5 linked regions of the Homo sapiens genome follow. The protein of the gene in region 1 purifies or fractionates together with the protein of each later gene. This does not show direct contact. Each region holds a gene or a part of one and is shown on either strand. Other genes may lie near its edges.

What was found.
Region 2: the proteins of SCAF11 (region 1) and ZNFX1 purify together in Homo sapiens (affinity purification with mass spectrometry; one large-scale study listed by BioGRID and IntAct). This does not show direct contact.
Region 3: the proteins of SCAF11 (region 1) and TUBGCP6 purify together in Homo sapiens (affinity purification with mass spectrometry; one large-scale study listed by BioGRID and IntAct). This does not show direct contact.
Region 4: the proteins of SCAF11 (region 1) and MZT2A purify together in Homo sapiens (affinity purification with mass spectrometry; one large-scale study listed by BioGRID and IntAct). This does not show direct contact.
Region 5: the proteins of SCAF11 (region 1) and SRFBP1 purify together in Homo sapiens (co-immunoprecipitation; one large-scale study listed by IntAct). This does not show direct contact.

Annotation. Positions count from the first base shown.
Region 1 is NC_000012.12:45,926,832-45,932,531, forward strand, and holds part of SCAF11 (protein SCAF11), read right to left. Parts: intron 4,782-5,700; coding exon 4,675-4,781; intron 2,029-4,674; coding exon 1-2,028. UniProt on the Homo sapiens protein: Plays a role in pre-mRNA alternative splicing by regulating spliceosome assembly.
Region 2 is NC_000020.11:49,253,021-49,258,720, forward strand, and holds part of ZNFX1 (NFX1-type zinc finger-containing protein 1), read right to left. Parts: intron 4,645-5,700; coding exon 4,397-4,644; intron 2,928-4,396; coding exon 2,788-2,927; intron 1,630-2,787; coding exon 1,475-1,629; intron 792-1,474; coding exon 646-791; intron 1-645.
Region 3 is NC_000022.11:50,223,088-50,228,787, forward strand, and holds part of TUBGCP6 (gamma-tubulin complex component 6), read right to left. Parts: intron 4,942-5,700; coding exon 4,820-4,941; intron 3,991-4,819; coding exon 3,912-3,990; intron 3,756-3,911; coding exon 3,646-3,755; intron 3,292-3,645; coding exon 3,200-3,291; intron 3,103-3,199; coding exon 2,963-3,102; intron 2,857-2,962; coding exon 2,707-2,856; intron 1,506-2,706; coding exon 1,424-1,505; intron 1,334-1,423; coding exon 1,245-1,333; intron 1,170-1,244; coding exon 1,054-1,169; intron 1-1,053. UniProt on the Homo sapiens protein: Component of the gamma-tubulin ring complex (gTuRC) which mediates microtubule nucleation.
Region 4 is NC_000002.12:131,488,662-131,495,115, reverse strand, and holds the start of MZT2A (mitotic-spindle organizing protein 2A), read left to right. Parts: upstream 1-2,718; 5' UTR 2,719-2,739; coding exon 2,740-2,909; intron 2,910-3,091; coding exon 3,092-3,240; intron 3,241-3,879; exon of another isoform or gene 3,880-3,956; intron 3,957-4,223; coding exon of another isoform or gene 4,224-4,403; intron 4,404-6,454. UniProt on the Homo sapiens protein: Required for the recruitment and the assembly of the gamma-tubulin ring complex (gTuRC) at the centrosome.
Region 5 is NC_000005.10:121,971,975-121,977,674, forward strand, and holds part of SRFBP1 (serum response factor-binding protein 1), read left to right. Parts: intron 1-2,221; coding exon 2,222-2,310; intron 2,311-3,340; coding exon 3,341-3,413; intron 3,414-5,700. UniProt on the Homo sapiens protein: May be involved in regulating transcriptional activation of cardiac genes during the aging process. May play a role in biosynthesis and/or processing of SLC2A4 in adipose cells.

The sequences.
Region 1 (5,700 bases):
TTCTACCAAATGATGAACTCTTACTTTTTGTTCTACATCTTGAGGGGGACCTAGAATGAGATCTGGACCTAGACCACTTTCTGGTTCTCCTTTCTCTCTCTCTCCTCTGCCCATCTCTATCACTTTCTCGTTCTCTGCTCTGGGACCTGGATTTTTCTCCTGGGGAAGAATCTTTCACTCTTGGCTGAGATCTTTTGTTCTCTCTAGAAGTTTCTCTTCTTGGGGACAGTGATTCAGATCTTCTGCTTTCCCTAGTAGTATCCCTTTTTGGAGACCGAGACTGAGATTGCCTCCTTTCTCTTGCAATATCCTTTTTTGGGGACTGAGAACGGGATTTTTTCCGGCCTCTGGCTGACTCATTCTTAGGAGATGGTGATTGAGACTTCCTGCTTTCTTTCCCAGTTTCTCTTCTGGGAGATGGAGACTGGGGCCGCTTCTTTTCTTGTGGAGTGTCTTTGTTGGGTGACCAAGTTGTAGATGGAGAATGAAATCTAGATCTTCGAGTACGAGGCTTTTTGGTTTTATCTATGGTATCTTTTGGGCTTTCAGATGGTTGAGAAACAGTTTCAACCTTTTCATCCGCAAGATCAGAAGACGGCATATTATTTTCAGAACAGTGTGTCACAGAATTTTCATTCATTTGTTTAAGATCAGCATTTACAGATGGTTCAACTTCAGATTCATTTTGGTCACTGCAAAATGAATCACACTCCATAGGTATCATTTCATTGTTGTCCTCACTAAAATGCTTCTGAATCTGTTCAATGTGTGTTTTAGGCAACTCTGTAGATCTAGGATGTTCGGTCAGCGATTCATTCTTTTCTTCTAAAGATTTTTCCAATTTGGTGTTCAGAAGATTATTTTTTAGTAAGTTATTTTCAGAGTCTTGAATATTATTGAAATCTTCATTCCCAAAAGTATCACATGTTGCAATTATTTCTACATCTTCAGTTTCAACATGCCCAAGCAATTGAACCTCTGGGCTCTTAACAGATTGTCTGTCCACTGTCTGTATAATTTCACCCTCAGAAGATTCTAACTTGGGGCTCTCTATAAGCTCCTCTGTTTTTAGTGTAAAATCTTTATGTTCAGTAATTTCTACTAGGGAACTCTCTGTTATTTTTTCTTCATTAACCACTGACTCTACATTCTCAGATAAGTCACTTAGGGGACAAGATACAGGTTGGTACACTTTGCTTTCAGATGTTAAACATGTAGGAAAATCATTTGGAAGATGAACTGTACATACATCTGTCTTTACCTCTGATTGTGAAAGTCCAGATATCTGGTCTTGCTTTTCCAATGGATCACCTCCTTTTTCAAGAATATTTTCAGAAATCTCACTTTCCAAACACAAAACATTAGCCTCTATACCTGTATTCTCGAGTTTTTTAACTTCCCCTTCCTCACCAACTAGCACAGGAAGATCTTGAGCACAAGACTCAGAAGATGAAGATCCTACTCTTTCCTCTGTATCATAATTTGCAGTATGCTTCTCACTTTCTTCTATTTGCTCATTGCAACTTTTCAAGCAATTAGCAGACTGGTTTTCTACATGAGTCTGCACAGTACAAATGTTACTACTGTCTACATCTGGTTGGTGCTCTTTTTCTAACACAGGTGATGTGTCAGATTCTGCTGTTTCTTCATCTACTGAATCATTGGAAGATGATTTTTCAGGGGCAGCTACAGAGCTCCGAAGTTTCTTTTTCAGTAAAGGTGGTTTTCTTCCTCTTCTTACAGACTTCCGTTTTGGAGCCTGTCTTGTTTGCTTTTCTGACTCAGCTGAAGAGGGAACACTTAAAGATGGATTACTGTTACCTGGGGCATCACACCCAGAATTGTCTGATATTGGGGATCTCTGAGACTGACTGGCTGTTTCAGCTCTTGTGTTACGTGTAGACCTCCTTGTAGGAGTTGTCATTGCAGGTTTTCGTCTTGATCCTCTGGTATTTGATGTACCAGAAGTTTGCTTCTTTTCTTCCCCTTCTTGAGTATGTGCTAATGCATATCCCTTGCAAGAAGTACCTAATAATATTTAAAAAAAAAAAAAAAGTAAAAAATATGTTTTAAGAAATAGTAATTTGGCTTTAGCTAATTTTAGCATAAAATAGTCTGCAACAGAGTGAAACTAAATACTTATAAATAAAACTATTAATAAATGCATAGCTACTAACATCTGAGTAATATGACTTATTCATCAACTTTCTTAATGACACTGAAATAAGTTATAACTAGATTTGGTCCAAATGGGCAATTTTATAGAGAAAAAAAAAAAGGAAAATAACTTTTGGTCTTGTAACTGCTACTTGCTTAATTTTTTTTTTTTTTGGAGACAGGGTCTCACTCTGTCACCCAGGCTGGAGTGCAATGGCGTGATCACTGGAGCAATCATCGCGCACAGAAGCCTCAACCTCCCAGGCTCAAGCGATCCTCCCACCTCAGCCTCCCAGGTAGCTGGGACTACAGGCATGCACTACCATGCCCAGCTAATTTTTGTATTTTTAATAGAGACAGGGTTTTGCCATGTTGCCCAAGCTGGTCTCAAACTCCTGAGTTCAAGTGATCTGCCTGCCTCGGCCTCCCAAACTGCTGGGAATACAGGCGTGAGCTACTGTGCCCGGCCATGATCTGGGATTATCTAAGCAAAAGGAGAGAGAAAATGGTCAAGTTATCCATGAATTAATAAAGACTCAAACTATTTATTAATAATTAATTAACAGATGTTACTTCTAAAGATCTATGGTTTGGATATGAAAGCCTGAAACAGAAAGGAGACTTCTAATCAGTTCCTCAAAGCCTCCAAGTTGTAATTTCAAAAACTACAACAGAGTTTCTAGTTGGAATATTTTTTATTTTTAAAACTGACTAACAGATAAAACTGTGTTTCTCATGTACAACATGATGTTTTGAAGTACATATACATTGTGGAATGACCAAATCTAGCTACTTAATATATGCACTACCTCACATAGTTATAATTTGTTTAGTGAGAACACTTTACGTCCACTCTCTAGCAATTTTCAAAAATACAATATAGTCGACCCTTTAACAACACAGGGATTAGGAGCACCAACCCCCAACACAGTCAAAAATTGAAACAGTTTTTACTCCCCAAAACTTAACTGTTATTCACCAGACTCCTTACTGATAACAGTGAATTAATATATTTTTTATGTTATGTGTTACATACTGTATTCTTACAATAAAAGAAGCTAAAGAAAAGGTTATTACAAAAATCATAAGAGAAAATACATTATAATGCTGTACTGTATTTATTGATACCCTAAGTTTATATCATTTGTTTACAAGATGAATCATCTGTCTGAAATGGCAGGCAACTGCAGCTATAGATCTCAATCTGTTCCTATCAAGGAATTAAACTTCTTCTTATAAAGCCATAATTTTGCTTCTTGGGAGCACTTCCTACATCACTAATGGCACTTATGTGGGTCCCAAAGGTGTTACTCAAGGTTTACAGTATTGCACTAAACACTATGAAAAATATGCATGCACTGCAAGAGATCACTTTTTACTGTGATATGCAATCTATTAGAAAGACAAATGCTCACATGGAGATGATTACATTAAACCAGGTTTTGCGTTGTGTTTTGTTTTTTTTTTGTTTTTTTTTTTTTTTGAGACAGGCTGTTGTTCTGTTGCACAGGCTGGAGTGCAGTGGTGCAATCATGGCTCATTGTAGCCTCAACCTCCCAGACATTCACAACACTTGAGTACACCAGAATAGCAACAGGTGGCGGCCACAAAAATTGTTACACTGGTAAATACGTACTATATTTAATTTTACACAGCTATGATTTAATACTGTATCTTTACAGCTGTTTACATTTCTTATGACTGCAAATGGTGGAACCATGTGGTTTGAGTGTGTATATGTTTTGATAAATTTTAACTTGTTATCATAGATTTGTATATATTTTATGGTAGTAAATGATGAAATAGACTAGTACCTACATATATTTTATACATTAATGACATACCTTTTTCTTAATTTTTTTCACTATTTATAGGTTATGCGATTTTTCTGTTTTTTCAGTGTTGCAAATCTCCAAACATTTTCCGATATATTTATTTTTTAAAATTCATGTATAATGTCGCCACCCAGTTAAAACCTATGTTGTTCAAGGGTCAACTGTATTATTATAGTCATCACGTTTCACAATTGATCTTTAGAACTTATTCTATCCAGCTGAAACTGTATCCTCTGACCAACAACCTCCACCCCACCACACCTACCCCACCCCCTAATCTACAATCTAGTTCTACGAGATCAACTTTTTTAGATTCCACATATAAGTGAGATCATGTGGTTATGTGCCTTTCTGTGCCTGCCTTATTCACTTAGCCTAATGTCCTCCAGGTTCATCCACGTTGGCACAAACAAGATTTCCTTCTTTTTGTGGCAGAATAATATTCCATTGTGTGTGTATATAGATATATGGAGAGACTATGTATCTATCTATCTATATATACATACACTCTAGTTGAAGCAATTCTAAAGTTAAGTCATTGTCCAAATATTTATAGACGTATTTACAAGTTACTATGCCTTACTTTACAGCTTTTCTAAGTCATCAAACACACATTTTTATGAAACTGGAAGAAACTAATAATAATAATTTTTAAAATAGAAAATGATTTCACAAACTTTACCAAAATGTTCGAAAGATATGGTACTTGTTGGAAAAATAGTTCTTGGCAACACAGAAGAAATGAGAGGAAGGACTTCTGTTTCAACATTCCAGGGTATAAAACCAATTCTGAAAACATAATAAAGACATTTTTGTTTAAATGGTTTAAAAAATTAAACCACCAATTTAAAAGTATTAATTCTCTAAATCAGGTTAGCAATATTAAAATACAGTGCTTAAATGTTTTTTGCCCAAATAGCTAAAAATGTAAATTCAAGGTTACTCCTTGTCTAAAGATAGCTACCAATTGGCTAAAATTCAGAAAAAAACCTTTAAAAGTATGTTTTTCTGATAAATTCATGGCAAAGAAAAGATGAAAGCAACTTAACACAGATGTTTCTCTTTGAAATAATTTATGTAGTATTTTGTCAAGAATTTTTCCAGCTTTCATCATGTTCTTCACTACTCTAAAAAAATAAAATCAACTTTGAGGTGTAATTCAACATAAAATGCAGACTTTAAGCGTACATTTGCTAACTTTTTACCAAAGTGTGTGCATATATATATATATATGTCTGTGTTAACCACCACCCCAATCAAGAAAGAGAACATTTCTGCCCCCCTAGAAAGTGTCCTCACACTCCTTTGTATCCTTCTCCCTCCTTTCCAGGCAACCAAGGAACTGATTTATACCACTATGTTATATTCTAAAATTCCTCGACCTGGTGATGGCTCTTCAAAGTTCTCAGTGTCCCTAGAGACCTGTTAAGACCCCCTCCTTCAAATTTTCTCCATTCAAACCCAAACCACTTCTTGGCTTTCTTTTTCTTATTCATTTAGGTCTCCTAACAAAAGACTATCTGATTCAATATAAGGTAAGATTCTGGAGTAGGAGAAGCATGGGAAAAAAAATGTAACTTGTACATGTATAAAAATATGTAACTATAAGGAAGGGTTTCATAGTACATACATCTGGAATTCTTCATCTGACTTCTATTATGTTCTGCCATCATTCTTAGAGGGTGAATGCCCTATACAGAACTATATT
Region 2 (5,700 bases), on another chromosome or scaffold:
CAGAGTGCCCCATGGTGGGTTTTTTCTAGCTAGGCCTCTGAACAGTGACATCTGAGTAGACACTAGCATGGCAGAAGTTGCCAGTTCTTCAGTCATTTGAAAAGCAAGATCCATAATGGGGAGCGGAAAGGACACAGTGGGACACCAAGAGCAAATGGGATGAAGTCAGAGAAATAAGCTGAAACCTGATCACATAAGCCTTTGTGGGCCACTTTAAGAAGCTTGATTTTTATGCAAGTGCAATGGGACACCACTGGAGGGTTTTCAGCTGGAAAGTGATATTATCTATCTACCTTTTTTTTAAAAAAATTCACTTTGGCTCCTTTATGTAGAGTGCATTAAAAGGTAGCAAAAATGGAAGCAGAGAGACTGAGGAGCATGCTATTACAATACAGTCCACTCAAGAGGCCATGGTGGACTAGGTAAATAGCAGAGGGAATGGATGAAATAAATGACGTTGCCACTAAAATATACCCCAAATCTAATAGCATCTGCTCTTAGACTGAACGTGGGAGGTGAAGACAAGAGGAATCACAAGAAGCTACTAATAAGCTTGAGGACTGTTGAAGCAGAGGCCAGGGTCTTCCTTTATGATCTCACCCCCACGGAGAGCCAGCCCATCTTCTAGGGGGACTCTCGTTTTACCTGCTGGTGGTCCCCAATCAAAATGAGGTGCTGGCAAGCTTTGCTCAATGTGGCAATGGTATGGGCCTCAAGGACTTCCGCAGCTTCTTCCACTATGACAATCCTCGGCTCCACCTTCTGTAGGATCTGGCGGTATTTGGCAGCACCTCAAGTGAGGAAAGAAGAGAAAGGCTCCTCTGAGCTGAGGCACAGGACCCACAGGGCCACTGGGCCTCTGGGAATCCACTTCTGTATCTTCCCTGAACCTGCATCAGCGACAGCTGGTCCTTATAGTGTTCTGGGTGGTCTCCAGAACATTAAAACTGTGTTGGTCACTGTTGGAGTTTCAAACCCAGCAGGAGAAAGTGAGTGAATTTCTTTTTTCTTTTTTTTTTTTTCTTTGAGACAGTCTCACTCTGTCACCCAGGCTGGAGTGCAGTGGTGCGATCTCAGCTGACTGCAACCTCCACCTCCCAGGTTCAAGTGATTCTTGTGCCCCAGCCTCCCGAGTAGCCAGGATTACAGGCACCCACCACTACACCCAGCTAATTTTTGTATTTTTAGTAGAGATGAGATTTCACCATGTTGGCCAGGCTGATTGCAAACTTATGACCTCAGGTGATCCACCTGCCTTGGCCTCCCAAAGTGTTGGGATTATAGGCGTGAGCCACTGCGCCTGGCGAAAGTGAGTGAATTTCACCAAGAGTTCTCAAAATATGGGTGCTTTCAGTAGCTTTTCATGGTATTTTCCTCTAACCTACCAAAGAAGCTCCTCTTTACCTGTCCTTAGATAATCTGGCACCAGAAGTGAACTTAGATGCAACAGGCAAATTTCTCCACAGTTTCTTACCTGTGGTTGTCATTCCTACAACCTGGGCATCTTTAAGAATGTGCAGGTCTTCCTGGAGTCTCAGCTCGGCCATTCTTTCTGCTGATGTGCGGTACTGGCGTTCATAGCTGAGGATCTTCCGGCGGGTGTCAGCCTGGTACAACTGTAGCCAGAGCCTGGAGAATGGGAAGAACCAAGGAAAGAAAGCCACATGCTCTTTGAGAAGGTGGAAGAACGCCCTTCAGTGTGCCCAGTGTATGAAGTGAACCTTGGACCCTTGGAGCATAGTGACAAACAGAGAGATACATTCAGGGACCTAAGAATCCAAAATGCCCAACAAAAAGATGTGCAGAGTAGTCAGGAGCTAAGGAAAGGGGTGAGATAAAGAACAAAGGTTAACTATGGGAAGAAAATAAGAGACTTTAAAAACTTTGGGAAGAATTCTCCCAGCTGCAGCATCCCTGCCTAATTTCCCTCCCCTCCTCTAATTCTCCATAGAGTATTTATTTTATTAGTAAAACTGATGATGTCACTAATCGCTGTAAAACTTTCCAACGGCTTTCTACTACTTTTTTTTTTTTTTTTTTAAAAGACGGAGTCTTGCTCTGTCACCCAGGCTGGAGTGCAATGGCGTGATCTTGGCTCACTACAACCTCCACCTCCGGGTTCAAGCGATTCTCCTGCCTCAGCCTCCCGAGTAGCTGGGATTATAGGCACCGGCCACCACGCCCAGCTAATTTTTTGTGTTTTTAGTAGAGACGGGGTTTCACTGTGTTAGCCAGGATGGTCTCAATCTCCTGACCTTGTGATCCGCCTGTCTCGGCCTCCCGAAGTGCTAGCATTAAAGGCGTGAGCTACTGCGCCCGGCCTCTCCTACTCTTTTTTTTTTTTCCTGTAGAGATGAGGTCTCACTATGTTGCCCAGGCTGGTCTTGAACCCTGGGCCTCAAGAGATCCTCTAGCCTCAGCCTCCCAAAGTGGTGAGATTACAGGTGTGAGTCATTGTGCCTGTTACCTCTCTGTTCTTTTCTGAGTTTTTATACCCATTTGTAACTTTTTATTTGTGGAATTACGTGATTAATTTGTTACCCTGGATAGACTCCATAGGCTCCACGAAGGTAATAATTAATTTGTTACCCTGGATAGACTCTATAAGCTCCATGAAAGTAGAGCAAAGTGTCTATTCTATCCCATGGCTGTATCCCTATCACTCAGCTCAGTGGTGGTGCTCAATCAATAATTAGTTAACATCGTTGAAGGTCTTGGAGGTGGAGAATGTTCTAGGAACAGAAGAGGAACTCCCTACATGGGTTGGCTAGATGTGGAACACAGTACCTATAAAGCTGCCAGCGAGAACTGAGGTCCAGCTGCCAAACATCCTCGATCTCGTTGGCCTCGGCTGCAGTCATGGTGTTCAGTTTGCGAAGCTCATCCTTCACTCTTTTTTTCATTTTCTTTTTCTGGTTGCGCTGGGTCTGCAGACATCAATACCAGGCAGGGTACTGTCTGAGCAGAGGCAGGCTTGGTTTTAAGCCCAAGGCAGGGGTCACAGCACGTAAGAAAAAGGGCTGGCATCACTGATTAATGTCAAGTGTCTTACATTCTCCCAACAGCTCTTCCACTGTAGAGTGGCTAAACAAGGACTCTGGAGCCAGTTTGCCTGGCTTCAAAGCCCTACTCTACCTCTTACTAGGTTGTGGGACCTAGTAAGGTAAATGACCTAACCTCTGTGTCCCTCAGTATCACCTTCTATAAAATGGGAATAATAATGGTATCTCTTTATAGGATTGTTGGCTTGTCAGGAGTAAATACGTGGAAAGCATTTATACTAGTACTAGCACTAGTTATCATTAAACATCTTTGACCATAGCCTGTTTCTTGTTCCTAAAATGCATGCCATGAAAGTCATGGGGGTGGTACTTTCTTGTTGAATGCTGTACAACCAGTGCCTAGCAACTGGTGCTTCACACAGGACTTGGCACAGTGCCTGCTAAAACGGTCCTACTGCCATCGTATCAACACAGTACCTTTAACAAGTGGTGGAAAGCACTGTTTATGAGAAAGTGCTCTCTTCTGGCCGTCACTGAGTCTGAGGCTATGAGCCTTTAGAAGGCTCGCAAGTCAGACAGATGTCACTAAATAAAGATCTTCCCGCTGCTTCAAAATGAAACAAATCAACCTTTCCTGATGCCTCCTGGGAGAGATGCTGAATCTGTGCTTCTAAGAATTGAGATCATGACTCCGCTCACCACATATAGTGATACTGAACTGAACTAGATCAGGTGCAAAGCCAGCACTCAGATGAAAACTGCATCCAAAGTTGCCCTTGAAAGTTCTCAAATCATTGGTAAGGTTTACAAATTCTTATTTTGAATATCTAATCCTCGATCATCATAGTTATGCATGGTAAACAGTGAGGACTACTAGGCTCCACCAAAAGGAGCAGAGGGAAGGCTACATGAAGACACCTGGGCATTCATACAATTCTGGCTTTAAGAGAAGTGTCAAATTCCAGGCTGAATGAAGGAGGAATATTCCATCCAGCCTGGAGGTCTCGCTTCATTGCTTACTTTAATCCTCTAAAATCTTAGTACATGTTCACAAACTCATTTGAAATAGAGAAAACAACACTCCTGAAGGCATTAAGTACTGAGACCGTGTTTGACCTGACTCATATGTGCTACATTCTTCCACAAGTTCTACAGAAGCACTTGGCTACCTGCTTCCTGTCTTTCTAAGTTGGCATTTCTTGCCAGAGGCCCTCTGAAGAACCATCGTATTTATATCCTTGGGAATCACTAAAGCCATCTCATACCAGGGGTAGGCTGTAATACAGGTACTTAGCTAATTGTAATGGTGAAGTGAATATACTGTATCAGAAGTGGGGGAAAACAAGCGGTCAGAACACTCTCAGGCCTGTTTCAACCCAAGGAAGTGAGTTTACCTGCCACTCTCCTGTGGCTTGCTCCTGTCCAGCTGCTGTCCCAGTGCCACAATGGTCTAGCCTCATGGCCAGAAGCATTTTAGCCAACTCCTGGTCTGCTCCACTCTCTTCCTTCTTCCGCCGCTGGGGCCTCACCACCTCTTCCTCCTCAATCACCCGGTCTGCTTGAATCAGGTCAGCTTCCTCTGCGATCTCTATCAGCGAACTCTCCTCCTCCCCTTCTTCCTCCTCATCCCCTTCTGCCTGGGCTAAGAGAGAGAAACAGGCAGGAGAGAGATGAAAACTCTTTTTTTTTTTTTTTTTGATATGGAATCTCGCTCTTTTGCCCAGGGTGGAGTGCGGTGGTGCGATCTTGGCTCATTGCAACCTCTGCCTCCTGGGTTCAAGTGATTCTCCGGCCTCAGCCTCCTGAGTAGCTGGGATTACATGCACCCACCACCACGCCTGGCTAATTTTGTAGGCTAATTTTGTATTTTTAGTAGAGATGGGGTTTCACCATGTTGGTCAGGCTGGTCTCGAACTCCTGACCTCGTGATCTGCCCGCCTTGGCTTCCCAAAGTGCTGGGATTACAGGCGTGAGCCACCGTGCCTGGCCAGAGATGGAAACTCTTGAAGCTAAGGGACAGAAGACGGCACCTGCAAGAGCTCAGATGCATGAAGACATTATCAAGGGTTTATGTGATTTTTTTTTTTTTTTTGAGACGGAGTTTCACTCGTTGCCCAGGCTGGAGTGCAATGGCACAATCTTGGCTCACCACAACCTCCACCTCCCGGGTTCAAGCGATTCTCCTGCCTCAGCCTCCCGAGTAGTTGGCATTACAGGCATGCACCACCACGCCCAGCTAATTTTGTATTTTTAGTAGAGACAGGGTTTCTCCATGTTGGTCAGGCTGGTCTCGAACTCCCGACCTCAGGCCTGCCTCGGCCTCCCAAAGTGCTGGGATTACAGGTGTGAGCCACTGCACCCAGCCCTATGTGATTATTTTTGAGAAGAGAAACTAAAAGGAATGAGAGGAGAGTTAGGAAAGGCTTAAGGTCTCCTTATATACTTTTTGTTACGTTTTACGTTAAAAAATCATACGAATATATGCCTTTTAAAGAAAGGTTTTGGCTGTGCGTGGGGCTTATGCCTGTATCCCAGCACTCTGGGAGGCTGAGGTGGGTGGATCACCTGACGTCAGGAGTTCGAGACCAGCCTGGCCAACACGGTGAAACTCTGTCTTTACTAAAAATACAAAAATTAGCCAAGTGTGGTGGCGCATGCCTGTATTTCTAGCTACCTGGGAGGCTGAGGCAGGAGAATC
Region 3 (5,700 bases), on another chromosome or scaffold:
AAACCTGGACTGGCCAGCTCTAATTTGGCTGCCACAGGCCAGAGACGTAGTGTCTAGGCCTGGTTTTCTCCATGTGTTAACAGGACAGTATCGACTGACATACATGCATGAACACGTACTCATGCATAAATGCATACACGGACACACGTGCACACAGGCACGCGCACCCCTCCACACACATCCCTCACTCGCTCCATAAAGAGATCTAAGGTTGGGACCTACAGCATCGCGTGGGGCTGAGCAGGAAGCGGCCAGCCCCTCCCGTGAGGGGCTCTCTCCAAAACCCCAAACAGCCCCTTGAAGGATCCAGCACTACTCAGCCTGGGACAGCCTGATGACAGCACAGGACAGGTTGATAACAGCACAGGGAGACAGACGCAGATGCTGTGCTGGACAAATGCCCTGTCTCAGCCGAGCGCGGTGGCTCGCGCCTGTAATCCCAGCACTTTGGGAGGCCGAGGCAGGTGGATCACCTGAGGTCAGGAGTTTGAGACCAGCCTGGCCAACATGGTTAAACCCCGTCTGTACTAAAAATACAAAAAACTAGCTGGATGTGGTGGCGGATGCCTGTAACCCCAGCTACTCAGGAGGCTGAGGCAGGAGAATTGCTTGAACCTGGGAGGCGGAGGTTACAGTGAGCCGAGATTGTGCCACTGCACTCCAGCCTGGGTGACAGAGCAAGACTCTGTTTCCAAAAAAAAAAAAAAAAAAAAAAACGCCCTGTCTCTGTCAGACCAATAACAGACTTAAAAATAAATAAGGAAGGATGTTCAGAAAGAAGATAAATAAAGAGACAGGACCCCAAACAGTACGCAGGCCTCGCCTGGACCCTAATCCATACAAACCACCACAAGACAACGCGCAGAACAGCTAAGGATGCCTGGATAAGGCAGAACGCCCACAGCCACTCTGGGTTCAGCATATTGGTCTTTCTACCTTAATGTATGTTTGAAGGTTTTCAAAACAAAAAGTAAAATCATCAGTAAGATTAAGCCAGAGCTATGGGGCCCCTGCCGCACTGCACCCCTGGGCCTGGAGCCCGGGCTGCCCTACCTCGCCTTCCTCTCCAGCTCCTCCTCCAGGGACTTCAGCCTTCTCTCCCTGTCTCGGAGTTCACGGGCGTAGCTGAAGTCATCATCCAGCTCCTCCTGCCTGGCCGCCTGGCGTCGCTATAAAACACATAGAGCCTGGCCTGTGAAATCAGAACTGACAGGCGTGACCCCGCAGGGACAGGTCCTACCCACCTCCTGGTCCTTCACAAATTGTTCTTTCAGCCTCTGAAACTGCTCACGCTTCCGGGCATCCAAGGCCATCCGTTCTGACATCTGCCGGTCTACATTGGGACAGTAAGGGGCGCACTGTCACAAGGAGGCCCCAGCAAGGCCCCCCGGAACTGCAGAAGGGAGGACTTGGGGCCACTCACCACTCAGTGCACTCAGGACCCTGGATGCTGCTTCCCGGGCATGAGCGATTAATTCTTGTTTTGCAATTTCCATACGTAATTCCTGAGAAAGACAACTGGTAATCAAAGCATCCTGGCCGGGCGCAGTGGCTCACGCCTGTAATCCTGGCACTTTGGGAGGCCGAGGTGGGTAGATCACATGAGCTTAAGAGTTCAAGACCAGCCTGGACAACATAGCAAAAACCCATCCCTACTAAAAATACAAAAATTAGCCAGGTGTAGTGGCAGGTGCCTGTAGTATCAACTATTTGGCGGGGGTCAGGGGAGCTTAGGCAGGAGGATCCCTTGAGCCTGGGAGGTGGAGGCTGCAGTGAGCCATGTTCGAGCCGCTGCACTCCAGCCTCCTGGCTGACACAGTGAGACCCTGTCTCAAAGAAAAAAAAAGCAACCTAATCCTCTGACCCCTCACCTAGGATGCCCAGGACACCTGTGGACTCAGGGCCGGCAGGGGAGACACATGGTCCAAGGGTTCGAGGAGGGACCAGGTGATGGCAGGACACCGCCCCCCCGCCCACCCTCCCCCACCCCCAGGCTCTCAGCAGTGGCAAGGCTGGTTCCAGGCCATGGACGGGAGCTGACCGGCTCTCACAGAGACATCTGGGGCTGAGGACCCCAAGGCTGTGTGTGCCCACCCTGGAAGGAAACCAAGAGGCCTCAAGAGGGGGCTTCCCCGCTCAGCCTCTTAGGCCTGCCCCTGCCCAAGTATCCCTGCTGCCCACCAGGCACCAGGCCAGAAAGGGTGTTCCTGGGAATGGCACTGATTGTACCACCGAGCCCCTCCCAGAAGACACAGGAGAGGCGTGGCCCGTCCCTGACACACTGTCCCTTCCCAGCAGGAAGGGGGCTTGCAAAGGGCGAAGGCCATCTGGAGTGCAGCCAGGACTGTCTGTCCACAGCTGGCGGGCCCGGGGAGGCCCCAACGGAGTTTCCCACGCCAGCAAAGCCTGGGCTTCAGGCTGAGCCACCCAGACCCAGGAGGAGAAGTCAGAGCCCCTGCCTGGCATCTGGCTCCGGACATTCATCTCAGCTCCCCCTTGGCACCCACCCTTCATCTCAACTCCCCGTTGACACCCACCCTTCATCTCAACTCCCCCTTGGCACCCACCCAGGCCACCGCCAGGACAGAAAATGCCAGAAGGGAGGCCCCCATCTTGCACAGCCCTCATGTCCGCCCCACCAACCTGAGACCCCAGGAAGCAGAGGCAGGGGCGAAGAAAGCCCCCGAGACCTGTGGTGCCACGCACCTTCTCCTCCTTGCTGACAGAGCTGTGGCGGGCCACCCTCTCCATGCGCCCAACGTAGACGGCACAGTCCTTCTCAATCTCCTTCAACTCCTCAAGGGAGAAAATCACCGAGATCCGGGGGACAGGGACGTCGGACCAACAGAGGTAATGCTGCCAAAGGGGATGCAAGCACAGCCACCAGCACTCAGCCCCAGCCTCATACTCAGCCCCAGGGAAGACCGGCCCCTCTCTTCCCCACACATGAGCCCCTCCTCACCCGGGGGCAGCAGAGCTTCAGCAGGTTAATGGTCTTTCCGCAGACGTATATGTCGTGGGCAATGTGCTTCAGAAACACGGGAACACAGTCCTCCACCTCTTTGGAGATGAGCACGTAGCCATGTGTCCAGTACAACTTATCTAAGGTAGGGTGAACACCACGGTGGCCGGCATGGCCATGGCCCTGAACCCAGGCCCACAGGCACGGACCCCTGCCCCGCAATCAGCTGCCACCTACCTCGGAAGCTGAGGTACTCGTGGTTCACCTGAATCATGAACTCGCCATAAGCGTCTCTGAACACCCCGCTGTACACCCAGTCGTGGATGAACCTGCAGTGGGGGAAAAGCAGGGGTAGATGTGGTCAACGGAGAGGTGGGTGGGGCGTGGCTGTCAGTGAGGGGTGGGACAGGGGCGTGGCTGTCAGTGAGGGGCAAGTGGGGGCGTAGCTGTGAGAGGTGGAGTGGGGTGTGGCCATCCATGAGGGGCGGGATGGAGTGGGGGCAGGGTGGGGGGTGTGGAGTGGGGGCAGGGTGGGGGGTTGGGGGCTCCTGCCCAGTCCACCTATCCTGCCCTCCCCTTCCTGTGTGACCCCCACATTCAGCAGGTGTCTGACAAGGGACCGCTCTCAAGTGTCTGCCTGGTGGGAGTGCGCGCCCGCCGCGCCTGCCCAGCCCACTGCCCACCGGGTGTAGGGCTCGCAGCTGGTCTTCAGCAGGGACAGCAGTACAGGGTAGTGCTCGTTGCTGCAGTTGTGCAGAGCCTCCTGGTAGAGGTAGGACAGCAGCTTCACGCCCTGCAGACCGCAAAGGGGGTGGGGGGCAGCTCAGCGCACCCAGCGCTGGGAGTGAGGCGCAGCCCTGCCGGCAGCAGCCCTCCAGGGACACGCTCAGCCACCCCCGTTTCCTGGAGCCCACCAGGCTGACACACTCGGCAGGGACGCACAACTCACGGTGGGAAACGCGGCCCTGGGGCCTCCTCCACAGGTGCCCGGGAGCACAGCGCCAACGCCACAGAGCTCGGCCAGGTACCTAGACCCAGAGGCAGGATGAGACCAGGTGACCGGGCTCAGGGTTCCCAGGCCTGGATCAGATCGTGAGCAAAGTCTCCACGTATCTTTATGCTCCCTGGGGCAACTAACTTTAGATGCAGGCTTTAAAAACCACAGGCACCCCAACCACCCAGAAACGGGCTCCCTGCAGGACTCGTGTGCAGCCCTGTGCCCCTGCGCTGTCCACACACACCCCACTGAAGTACCCACACCCAGCAGGCCCTCCCTCCCAGGATCTGGCCAACACACGAATCACCCTGATCCTCCCACTTCTGGGGGCTGCACCTGAGAGCCCCTCCCATCCACACAGTGGTACCAAGCATCTGCCACAACTCGCACCCTTCACAGCCCAGCTCCCCTGCCCCACAGTGTCTCAGCCCTTGGGTCTCCTCAGCGCTGCCACACTCTGCTCCTCAGCCTGGAAGGTCGCCTCTCCCACTGCTCCCAATGCCCAGCTCCTCACTCTTCCTTCTCTGATGGCACCTGCCAATAGCCCCCGAGCCTGGTTGCTCACTAACCAGCTTGTGTGTACCGGACGCCACATCTCCAGGGACCCTGTGTGCCAATTAGGCAGGAGCCACCGGACCTGGAGGGCCTGGATGGGGCCAGCTGTGGTGGGCCCACGGCAGACACACCCGCTCAGCACCGGGCACCTGGTGAACTCGGCCGGCCAAGGGCCATCCGGTCGCCTGCTGAGGGCTGTTCTCACAGGCCCTCCTTGCCAGGGAGCAGGGCAAACCCTCCACCACCCAGCAAGCCCCACACCGCTCCCGCAAAGTCCCCTGCTCAGCCGCCATGCTGAGGCTCACCTGAGCTGCCGGCCAAGTTTCTTGAAGAGAAAACCAATGGTGAGGAGGCTCAGGGTGGGCGGAGTGGAAAGGACGCAGGCCCGGTAATACTGCAGGTACCTCCTCAGGCCACTGGTGAAGGCCTGTGGGCAAAGAGGCTGGGAGGAGGGCGGCCAGGCACATGGACGCAGCCGTGCCCAGGGCCTGAGGGGCACCAGTGCTGGGAACAGCGCTTTGTTTCTTGCCTCAGCTCTGGGCTCCATTTCCAAGCAATGGGCCTCTGTGAGCCACACCCCGCCACCGGGCCAGGTGGAAATGCGGCCCATCCACAAGAAGCCAGAAGCTGTGGCCCACCACCAACCCTTCCTCTCATCTGAGCCCAGCTGCCCCAGGGGCGCCCACCACCAACCCTTCCTCTCATCTGAGCCCAGCTGCCCCAGGGGCGCCCACCACCAACCCTTCCTCTCATCTGAGCCCAGCTGCCCCAGGGGCATGGCAAAGGGGCTGGGGGGGAAATGGCGGCCGTGCTCTGTGCACAGACACTAGTGCTGTGAGGGCTGCAGCTGCTCCGACCACAGCTGTCTCAGTGGCACCAGCATCCTGGGCAACGCCACAGCAGCAGGCCCTGCAGGTCACACTAAGACAGGGGCACCCTGGACCAATCTCAGTCCACCCACCCCAGGAGCCGCCTGGCTATGCCTGCCAGATGAACAAGAACCACAGTCCAGCCCTTCTCAGCGTCCCCTGCTCTGACCCCTTCTCCACCATCTCTAGCTCTCAAGTCCCCCGGGGCTGAGCCTCTGCCTAGAAGCTCTCCCCGCCCCGTGCAGCTCCCACCATGCCCACCTCCACAGCCCATCTAAAACCTACACCTCACCACATCACCCCACCCGACAGCCCCT
Region 4 (6,454 bases), on another chromosome or scaffold:
TGGAGGTTGCAGTGAGCAAAGATCACACCATTGCACTCCAGCCGGGGTGACAGAGGGAAACTCTGTCTCAAAAAATGGAAGAAAAAAAGGAAAGAAAACTAAGATCAGCTTTCCAGATTCCTACCTCTCAGCTCACCCAGGTCAAAAATAAAAAATGCTCAGACCTAGACTTCACAGACAGGAAGTCTGCCAAGTCCCACTGGTGGCCTAGTTACAGTTTTCCTGGCCCAGCTCTGCCCACTGCACAAGTAACGGCACTGGGGTGGCACCTGGCAGTCTGTGGAGGAAGAGAGGCTGGGTGTAAAGAGGCCATGTAGGCAGTTGTAGAGTGAGAGGAGACAGGAATCTCTGCCTCTCTGCCACTTGGCAATAGGAACATCTCCCAAGTTTTTTCAATTTTTTTTTTTTTTTTTTTTGAGACGGAGTCTCACTCTGTCGCCCAGGCTGGAGTCCAGTGGTGCTATCTTGGCTCACTGCAAGCTCCGCTTGGGTTCACGCCATTCTCCTGCCTCAGCCTCCCGAGTAGCTGGGACTACAGGCGCCGGCCACCACGCCCGGCTAATTGTCTTTTGTATTTACTTAGTAGAGTGGGTTTCACATGTTAGCCAGGATGGTCTAGATATCCTGACTTCGTGATAAGCCCGCCTCAGCCTCCCAAAGTGCTGGGATTACAGGCGTGAGCCACCGCGCCCGGCCAGCTTTCTCTTTTCCTTTTTTTTTTTTGAGACGGAGTCTCGCTCTGCGCTCTGTCGCACAGGCTGGAGTGCAGTGGCGCCATCTCAGCTCACTGCAACCTCCGCCTCCCGGGTGCAAGCAATTCTCTGCCTCAGCCTCCCAAGTGGCTGGGATTACACGCGCCCGCTACCACGCCCGGCTAATTTTTGTATTTTCTACTAGAGACGAGGTTTCACCATCTTGGCCAAGCTGGTCTTGAACTCGTGACCTCGTGATCCACCCGCCTGGGCCTCCCAAAGTGCTGGGATTACAGGCGTGAGCCACCGCGCCCGGCCTCAATTCTTAACCTAGCTATCAATTGCAGTGTTAAAGAAAAACGCCTCAGTCCTAATGCACTTGGTCAAGAAAACACTGCACTACTGCAAAATGATCAAAGCAGCATTAAACTGTGGACTGCTGGATAAGTGCGGAGCTCTAGAGATGATGAAGGGGAGAGCATCTCTGCTCAGTAAAAGCTTTCATGGGCAGCGACTGAAAGAATGAGGCCCAGAGGAATTTCTAGGAACTTTCCAAGAGAGGAAATTCAAACCCGAGAACTCCCAAGAGGTGTCTCCCACACCCCTGTTCTCTGACCCTGCCATGGCCACCCTCCCCCGTCACAGGTCTCTGCGTGCCATGCACCTAGAGTCCACTTCGTCGCGACTCTCCAACACCTATTTTCTCCAGGAGCTGCTTCGGACCCGTTTGTTTTTTTTGTTTCGTTTTGTTTTGTTTTTCTGACAGCGACAGCCCTTGGGCAACGCTAATCATTCCAAGCAAATTCTGTCATGCCAAGACCTCCCTTAACAGCACGCGCCCACTTGTTTCCAACTCTCCTGCGAATTGGGCTTCGGGAGCCTCCGAAACCAAGGCTCGGAGATGTGGAGCGCACAGGGGAAGGGTCGAGCTGGGACCCACACCCGGCTCTTCCTCCCACACCGCCTGTTGAGCCCAAGGCTCAATTTCAACACAAAGCTCTCCTTCCCTCAATTCCTTCAACGACGGGTAACCTTCAACGAACACCTACCGGACCAGAACAGAGTGTACGAGCGGCGCGGGAAGGTGGCACAAAGGCATGGCCCAGAGGAGTGGCAGGAAGACTCAGCCGGGGCCCTCCACTCCCCAGCCTGCCCGGCCTGGGCAGAGCCGCCGGGCCGCCCGAGTCCTGGGGCTCGCGGAGGAACGGAGATGGCCTCCGCAGGGGCTCGCGGAAGCCCCCAGGGCGTCGGACCGTCTCACGCGCGCGTCCCGCGCCACTCACCTGTGGGACCCATAGCGTCGCCCGCTTCAGAGGTGGAAGCCGCCATTCCGCCACCGCGCCAAAACGTCGTCATCAAGCTGCGCGCAGAGCCACGCCCCGCGGCCGGGCGGGAAAAGCGCTTCTACCTCTTTGGGCCGTTACCTCAAAAGGTACGTGCGCAAAGCGAAGAAGGCCGGCCGGCCGGCCAGGGAGGGGAAATGGCGAGGCAGGAGTGCGGGGGGAGGGAGTGGTCCTTAGCTGAATGCGCCTGCGTTGTGGCGGCCTCTGGCGCCCCAAGGTAGGGCTCACGCACTTTCTCCCTAGCAAGGAATGCGCGTGCGCGTAAGCAGGGTTGTTGATTAGTGCCCCCCACCCCCCCCGAAGAGCGACCCCTAGTGGTGCACCGGTGCGGACCAGAAAATTGCACGCTTTCTTGAAACAGGTATTGACTGAGCGCCCAATGTATGCCTGGCACTGGGCTGGGTGCTGCCACCTAAGCGAGCACGACCAATGCAAGTCTATCAGGGACGCCCTGACCGCCAAGCAGCTGGCCCCTGCAGTCCGCCATGCCACTCCCGACGCCTAGCGCGCCGCTCAGCACACCGTGAGCGCCCACTAACTGTTGGGCTCCAATGACGCCGAGGAGGCGGCCCCGTCCCCGCGCTCCCGCCGCTCCCGCCAGGGCAGCCCGGGAGGCCAGACGCTGGCGCTGCAGGGAGAGGGCGGTGGGCGCATCCGCTAGGGGGCGCGGCGGGGCGGGGCGCACCTTTCGGCGGGCCTCGCGGATGGCGGCGCAGGGCGTAGGGCCTGGGCCGGGGTCGGCGGCGCCCCCGGGGCTGGAGGCGGCCCGGCAGAAGCTGGCGCTGCGGCGCAAGAAGGTGCTGAGCACCGAGGAGATGGAGCTGTACGAGCTGGCTCAGGCGGCGGGCGGCGGTATCGACCCCGACGTGTTCAAGTGAGCGGGGCGGGTGGGGGCCGCATGCTCGCCAGACACCCCCGACCTCTGCTCTCCGGGTACGCCCGGCCCGCTGGTCGGGAGGAGCCCCCGCTGCCCCCGCCCCCGTCCTTGTCCGGTCTTCAGGGAGGTGGCCGCGCCGGGCGGAGAGGGCTCACCGGCCCCGCGTCTGTCCCCGCCAGGATCCTGGTGGACCTGCTGAAGCTGAACGTGGCCCCCCTCGCCGTCTTCCAGATGCTCAAGTCCATGTGTGCCGGGCAGAGGCTAGCGAGCGAGCCCCAGGACCCTGCGGCCGTGTCTCTGCCCACGTCGAGCGTGCCCGAGACCCGAGGTCAGAGCTGGGCCCGCTGTCCCTGCCCCAGTGGCGGGGGTGGCGGGCGGGGAGGGGGCAGGCGCGGCACAGCGGCGGCGTGGCCCTGAGTGGCCAGGCCTGTCTGTCGGTCGGTCTAGGCCCAGCACCTGCAGGGCCCATCCGTGGGCTCTGCTCCTGGGCTTCGCTGCCAGCCTTAGGAGGCACGTCCAGGTCAGGTGGACGCAGAGTGCGTGCCCCAGGGTGGTCCAGGCTGGGTAGGGCTCCTCCGCTTAGCTCCTCCCCACCTCTTCACTCAGGCCTTCATCCTACAAAGTCGGGAATCAAGACGGTTTGGGGCTGGGCGCCGTGGCTCACGCCTATAATCTTTGGGACCCCACGGCGGGAGGATCCTTTGAGGCCATGAGTTTGAGACCAGTCTGGGTGACAGGGTGAGATCCTGTCTCTAAATGTTTTTCAAAAGACAGTCTCGATCTCTGTCCTGTGGTATACAGCATCCAGGGAAGTGCCCAGGGAGCAGGGCAGGCAGACGTCTTCCTGCCTTTACCCCACCTGGGCCCAGTTCCTGCCTCTGATGATTGCAGGAAGAGAGTTAGACGCGGAACTCCCAGGGTGCAGAGGCCTGCGGGGTCTGAAGGGCCTCCTCCCTCTCCAGTGTGGTGACTGGGCTGAGGAGATGCTGGGACTGAGAGTGTCATGGTGGAGCCTCCGTCCCTGCTCATCCTCTCCGCATGTTGCTTCTGCTCCCGATGGCTCTCTCTGAAATGCAGCACAACCTCCCAGGCCAATGGAAGGAGGCCCAGAGCTGGCTCCCTGCCTGGAAGCAGGAGGAGACCCTCACAGGCATCATGAGAAGGCGTGGAAAGCAGGCTGCCTTCATGGGGGAAGTGCCAGGGCCTGGGCACCCACGCCCGCTGACCCAAGAGGGCCCGGGCACCTGCGTGCTGGCCTCTTCACTGACCCTCGCTCTGTCTGCTCTCTTTGTGTCTCTCTCTGACCTCCAGAGGCCTCCTTTCTCTCTGCCAGGAACAGTAGCCCCCCTGCAAGGCCCTCGTTTTCCTCCAGCCCGCAGCCTGCGGCCTCTCTGGTTATGCTCCACAGCCCAGCTGCCACACACTCACCTCTCTCTCCAGGCCCCCCGGGTTCCCTCCGCCTCTCTTGCTGCCTGTTCTCTCCTTTTGCAGGTTGCGTTTATTGGCTTATCTCTGGGGGTTGGTGCTCTTCCTTGTTTTCATGGAAACTGCATGGCCCCAAGAGGCCCAAGCAGCTTTGAGCTGCAAGGGCAGGATCATGCAGGCCACCGCTGCCCTGCCGCTTAGCCACAGGGCACTATTTCTGACTCGGTTTATTAGAGACATGGTGTGGCAGTCTCTAGACCCCACAGTCGGGCTGGCATCCGGGGACAGGACCAACATCCCCACACCCCAGAGGCGAACTAGTGGTGAGTGTAAAGAGCCCCTCTCCAGGGGAAGACAGCCAGCCGGGTGCAGTGTGCTCTGCTGGAGAGCACAGCCCCAGGCGTGACAAACGCCTCGGCCTCTTAGAAGTTGTCCCCTACCTGGACAGGAAGTCTGGAGGCTGAAACAGAGACTCCCACCTTCCCAGAGTCTGCCAGGCAGTGCCACACAGATGCCATGTGCTGGTCCCATGGCCACACTCCAGCACTCAGCCCCCTTGCCCGCCTCACTCCTGAGTTGGGACACTTTCCAGGTGTCACCAGGTGTGATCAGGGGCCTGTGAGAGCCCAGGGGTCTTTGGTCGCGCCTCCTGCATGAGCCTCCTGACAGCGGCCACCTCACTGCCACCCAGAGCTCAGGCCCAAGAGAGGGTGGAGAGGGCCTGAAGGACAGGCCTGGAGTAGGGGTGTATGGACTGCAGGCTGAGATGAGCAATTGAGGGGCAAGTGTCCAGCAGGAGGGAGAAACTGGGAACAGAGTTCTTGTCACTCCAGGAGATGTTGCTGCTCACTTAGCACTCACTCAGGGCTCTGGGTGCCAGGCCTAGCTCTCAGGGCAGAGGGCGTGGCAGGGAAGTGAGATGATCACACTCAGTCCAGTGAGAGGCAGTGAGGAAAACCACCAGTGAGACCAGTGTGCTGGCTCACACCTGTAATCCCAGCACTTCGGGAAGTCAAGGCAGGTGGATTCCTTGAGCTCAGGAGTTCAAGATCAGCCTGGGCAACATAGCAAGACCCCATCTCTACAAAAAATACAAAAACTAGCCAGGCAGGGCCCGGCGCGGTGGCTCACGCCTGTAATCCCAGCACTTTGGGAGGCTGAGGCGGGCGGATCTCGAGCTCAGGAGATCGAGACCATCCTGGCTAACACGGTGAAACCCCATCTCTACTAAAAATACAAAAAAAAAATTAGCCAGGCATGGTGGCAGGTGCCTTTAGTCCCAGCTACTTGGGAGGCTGAGGCAGGAGAATGGCGTGAACCTGGGAGGTGGAGCTTACAGTGAGCCAAGATTGCGCCACTGCACTCCAGCCTGGGTGACAGAGCGAGACTCCATCTCAAAAAAAAAAAAAACTAGCCAGGTGGGCGTGGTGGTGGCGCCCATCTGTATTCCCAGCTACTTGGGAGGCTGAGGTGGGAGGATTGCCTGAGCCTGAGGGGGATGTTGCAGTGAGCCAAGAGCTTGTGACTGGACTCCAGCCTGGGCAACAGAGCAAGACCCTGTCTCAAAAAAAAAAAAAGAAAAGAAAGGAAAAGAAAAACCACTAGCAATGGAGTTGGGAGGAGGCTTCAGAGCCCAGAGAGCAGCAAGGGTTACACAGGGTGGAGCAGGAAGGGTCAGCAGAGCCCCACACGTGTGAGCTGGGGCAGTGGGAGGGCATGGGAGAGGCAGAGCGCTGTCCAGGTGCTGGTAGGCCCAGGGCAGGAGGAGGCAGGTGGGGGGGCACAGTCAAGATGTATGTGGGGGTTGTGGCACTGGAAATGCAGGCATAGAGGGGCCAGGAGGATTAGGGGGTGCCATGTGAGCGAATGGGGGCTCCAAGAGAATTTACCCGAGGACAGGAGTGGCCTGGAGTGCTGGGCCCCTCAGGGTCATTTGTTTCTCGAGGGCTGTGTCCTGGAAGCATAGCCCAGGTCCTGTAGGCTGGGTGGCAGAAAGCCACGACATGAGGGCACCGAGGCCCCATGGGGATAGAGTGGAACCTGAGGAGGAGGTGGAGGGGAATGGGGCAGACGTGTGCTGCTGAGTGAGAGGCAGAGGCCACAGATGGAATGCTGAG
Region 5 (5,700 bases), on another chromosome or scaffold:
TGAGTTTGGACGTCTCTTTCTAAAAGCTTAGTTCTCCACACAACTGAAGAGGGAGTGGTCCTAGTGAACCATGTAATGAGGATGTTTATTTAGTCTCTAATGAAAATGACTCAATCATGTTTAAAAATCAGTGGGAAACAAATGCATTAAAAGGAAGAGAATGACAATGCTATGGTAAAGGGATAATCCATAGTAGAGGTTCTAGGAAGGCAGAAGAGAATGGGCTCTAAAAGACAGTTAAAAGATAAACTCAGATATGTGTAGTGGTATTTCTTATATTGTAACTTTATTCGTAAAGGAAGATGGGTCATGGAAGTACATTTGCATTCATGGTAGTAGAAAAATGATGGTTCCCAACTGATAATTATTTTCTCCACACGATTGAAAGAGAGAAAGGAGGACGGAGACTAGAGGATTTAGGAGAGTAGGCAAAAGCTTAAAACAGGCATTGTAGAGTGAACTGAACAGAAAAATACAGGATGGCTAGGAAGAATGGGGGTCCACTTGAGGTTAATTATGATGAATTTATAGTAGACAGAATGTTACAAGTATTTGCTGTTGGCATATGACAATGAAGAACTCAGAGTGTTTTTTTCATTCAGGACTACGGTTTCCTCACCAGAGGGGCAGGAGTTTAAGAAATTGGCAGATGTTATCATGTATCTAAACTGCATAAAAAGAGGAACATTAAGTGTAGGAGTCAGTGGATTGGTGGTCCTAATGAAGTCAAAGATGGTTGTGGTGGGTGGAGTTGAACAAGCAAGCTGATAGAGGTTGTGATCACAGTGTGGAATATTTGAATTAATGGTTTTAGAAATTGAATATTATGAGTGATGACAAGGTTGACAGTGTGGCCATGGAAGTGGATGGCTGAGATAGAATAGATTAGGTCTTTAGAAAATAAGTAAAGAAGTGAAGATATAATTATCAGATGGGCTATTCAAGTGGACATGCAAGTTACACAGAATGATGGCAGAACTTAGGGTGTAAAGAAATTGTAAGTTGGTTGCTAATATCTTCAGTGAATAAGGGAGTGAATGACATGAAGGGTAAGAGAAGATATTAATTAAATGGAAGAGCCTTAAAGAAACAGGATGATGTTGATAATGTTATTTTGGCAAGAAGAATTTGAGGAATTTTTTGTGCCAGGCACTCTTGCAGGGCAAAGAAAACACTATATAAATATTACAAGACTCCTGTTTTCTAGGAGCTTGCTGTCTATAGAAAAAGACAGCCACATGAGCCATTAGTAACAGTGCAGTGAGGTAGATGCTTTAATGACAGAATCTGTATAGTGGGGACCCCAGGGATGGAGTGGTTATCCTTAACTGAAGAAGTCATTGAAGGTATCACTGGAATGACTATATCTGAACCTGAATTTTATATAGTTCCTAAAGTGAAGAAGGGGAAGAAGGACATTCCAGGAGTAATTTTTAAGATGTATGCCTCGTAACTGATAGATGAAATATAAACTCCGTAATTACATGCCATTGCACTGAAAGCTGTTATAATGTGTATTTTTTTTATAACTATAATTTCCATTTTTTGGCCTATAGCTCTGCTTTTTGTTCTTAGAGTTAAACATTGTTCTCCAGTAGGGTGATTTAAATTATGTATTTGTATGTGTGTGCATGTGTGTGTGGGGGGGGGGCATGTATGTTTACATGCACATATGCTTGCACACAATGCCCTTGTGTTTGTGGATCTTCTTTTAAAATTATACTTGAAATAATTTGTTACTAAAAATAATGAAAGATTTGTTTTATAAATATGTAAAATAAATTGCTAATTAAAAGCTAATTTGCTAATTAAAATAGTCATTCAACAAATTAAATTCCTACCATTATGAGTGAGGCTTTGTTTTAACGGTGGGAATACAAAGATGAATATGACAGGCTGTGATTTCAGGGAACTCACTGTTTATTATATTCCAAGCCCAGCAAGATATAAGTGTAACATTAAAATACTTATCTCGGGTAATACTGTGACTTTTTAAAAAATTATAACTTGTTTTTCTTAAGCTCTCAGACACATTTTTAGACTGTTGATTTATTCCTTCACTATTTATGGAAGAGGTTTGATTTCATCAAGCTACGAATATAGTTAGACAATAAAAGTAGTTAAAGTGGTAGACTAAGTCTCAAATATTAAGACTCAAAATAAAGTGTGTTTGTTCCTGAAGTAAGTGCCTTTCTTCTAATTATTGCTTTATTCTTCAAAGGTTGTGAAGATGAGAAAAGAAGTGAAGAGAATTCGAGTTTTAGTTATCCGAAAACTTGTCAGGAGTGTTGGCCGACTGAAGTCAAAAAAGTTAGTCATTTAAAGTAATGATCTTGTGACTAATAAAATGTCAAAAGTTGTTTTTATTTGATACTTTAAAATGTTTAGGGTGGGATATAGAGAAGTAATTAAATGTCTTATACACCATTTTTGTTTTGTATGCGGAGATGATGTGAGTGAGATAGAATGTGCTGTGTCAGCATGCCCTTCTATGGTTTGGACCATCATTGCTCAAGATACAGGATGAATTTTTTTGCTGCTTTTGCAAAACTCTCTTTTGGTCTTTTTAGAATGAAATTCCCTTGGGCTTGTGTGTTTTGTGTTATCAGAAGTTATTTTAAGATACTGATACAGCTTAACAAATCTAGTAATACCTTAAGAATCAGTTTTGAAGATTTTATATCACATTTTTTCTTGAATTGCTAAGTAATTTGAAATCTTCAGTACCTTATGAAAGTGTTTATTAGAACATTGTGTTCCATGTAATTTTTTGGAAAAATACAATATTTTGTATTTTCAGTATCACTAGTGTTAGTGAAAAAGTATTTTATTTATAGTTCTTTTTATGATGTAAGCATGAATACTTAGTCTTCAAGTATGTTTTGTTCCTGATTAATTTCCTATTCTTTCATAAATATGTCAGAATATAGCCCTTCTTTATTTTTTCCTTAAATGCCAGAGAGCAAATTTTCATTTGATAAAATTATAGTCAAACTCTAATTGTAAATTATGACATTTATATTACATTAAATACAATGTACGATTGATTGATTTAAAAAAGTGTTATTAAGGAACTAGAGAAGGCAAACTATCAAAAGTAATAGTCATTAATACAATGGCAAGACAGTACTTATTTTTGCCATTTTCCAACATATGGGTTTGGTTAGTAAATTGAGGTGTGTTTTGGGAGTGGGGGAAATGGACAGTGTAGGATAGTGGCGTGTTTGTTATTTAGAGATTTATTACGCTTTTCTAAAAAGAAATGAAGTGATTATCCATTACACTATAAGTCTAAAATTAATGCTTTGCCTGGCTACATATCGTAATGTATTTTTTGCAGGGGTACTGAAGATGCACTGTTAAAAAACCAAAGACGGGCGCAAAGATTGCTTGAAGAAATCCATGCCATGAAGGTAAGGACTTGTGTGGGTGTGTATGTGTGTATGTTTCTGAGTATCCTGTTATCCTGCATTTTGTTTGTGTGTGGTATTGCTTATTTGAATATTCCCGAGAGTTGCGTAAGACATCTTGTATCAGTCTGTTTGGTGAAGAATGTAGCACATTTAGAAAATTGTAACATTTAAGCTTGCATTTTTCTGTTTTTGACTGAATTTGTTAAAGTGCTAGGCTAATTTGAGTCAAAATTGTGCCAAACTAAATTCATCTATGTTTAATAATGCCTCCTGCCTCAGGTTTTTATTTTTACTGTAACTTTAGCACGAAGTCAGTTCAAGAATTAAAGTCTTCATGCTATTTGGGAATGTGGATGGTGATATTGGTGGCTGACATCATGCTTTCCTTGTTGCCAGCTCAATAAATTTTTATGTATTGGTATCGGCATTTTATTCAGTTCTGTAGTAACTTCAAATAAAATTAGTGTTAGACCAATGTGATCCCATATTTTTGTTTTTTTTTTCAGTCAGACTCTTCACTAGCATAATTTTTAGGTCTTCTTGCTGCTCTTACTTTGAGGAAACTTTCATTTACCAAATGACATGACATTAAATGTCTGGGAGACTGTTTTACTGTAGAACTTAAAAACAACATTTGGTCCCAGCAATTTTCTTAATTGCAGGGTCATTTTGCATGCATGTTTGCCTATTATATTTTGGTATAACTTTCAAGTTTTGAATTAAGTAAAAGAGAAATAAAACTCTCTAACTATTTTAATTGAGTTAAGTTATCAAAGATTCTCAGCCTTTCTTCCTTTTAAACGGATAGTAAAGTGTTTAATAGGACAAAGTTATCCCAGTTAATCTGAATAAAAACATCTAGGAAACGACTCTTTGATATGAAGTATATTTGTTTCTTGTGTTCTTCCTTCCCTCTGCTGCACACTATTATAAAATTCATGGAATCCATCTGATATAACTTTTATTTCTCAAGGTTATAATTCCCTTTTTATTCAGTCCTTCAGGAAAAAAAAGTCTTCTGTATTTGACTGTCAGTGATCATTTGTGTCTCTGTGGTTTGCAGATTATTTAGTTTTTTCATATACCTTTTTAAAATGATATTCCTATGAGAAATAAAATCTTTAGAGATTTTGTCTTGAGAATAGCAATAAAATAGGAAGTTACAATTTATCTCTTTCACTTTCTCTTAACCAAGGTTCTTACTAAATTACATTGCCTACCTAAATTTTTCCCTGTAATTTCTTCTGAATAGTCATTTTTGTAGTCTTAAATTATTCAGAGGCTTTGAGCTACTATATAATTGCTGATTTTATTTTACCATGGAAAGAATGCAGTGTGTGTGTGTATGCATGTATATATATATATAATATATATATGTGCATACACATACACATACAATGTATAGTTGGCTACTCTGACTTTAACTTCTTTTGTAATACTGTTTAAAAACTGGAGTAAACTGGAATTTGTTAAATTTTTTATATATATAAAAAATATATACATACACACACACTACATTCTTTCCATGGTTTGTTATATATAATAACTTGTATGTGGTGTATGAAGAGTTTGAGAACAAAAGATACTCAATCTTTAGAATACTTCCCTTTTGTAAATTTCAGTGATACATTTGATTAATTAGAAAGAAAAGTTGTCCTTTTTGATCTAAATGTAAAGCCTGTTTTCTGTTTCTTGTTTTGAATCTCATCAGCAAAGGGAAATCTGATTCAGTGATAAAGTTTGTAGGTTTACAAGATTACCACATCACTATCGTGGTTTGGTTTGGTTTGGTTTGGTTTGATTTGTGTTCTATTTTTCCCTGTGATTGCGCAATGGAATGGTTGCATCATAGAAAGCCAAATTCATAGCCTATGTATTCCTTAAATTCATAAAATTCATAGTATATATATGTCTTGAGTTTGTGGCAGGAGTTAGGGCAGGCTGGGTTGGCTACTCTGACTTCAACTTCTTTTGTAATGCTTTTTAAAAACTGGAATGAATTTAAATATAAAATGAATACTAGAAAGACTATATATTTGCTGTTCTTACGTGTCAAATTTTATTCCTTATTTATGGTTCTTTTACAAATTTTGTTGTCTTTTCTAAACAAAGCAAATAAATAAAGCATTTTTCTTAATTAAAAGGTCATTTGTAATTTTCTTAGGAAATGGTTATTACCTACTTGGGAGTATCAAATAAATGATGACAAAACAAACTCTCAATCTCAATTAAATTTGGAGAAAAGACCTCTGCTCATTTATTTTTCCAGAGAAATTTTTTCCTTGGC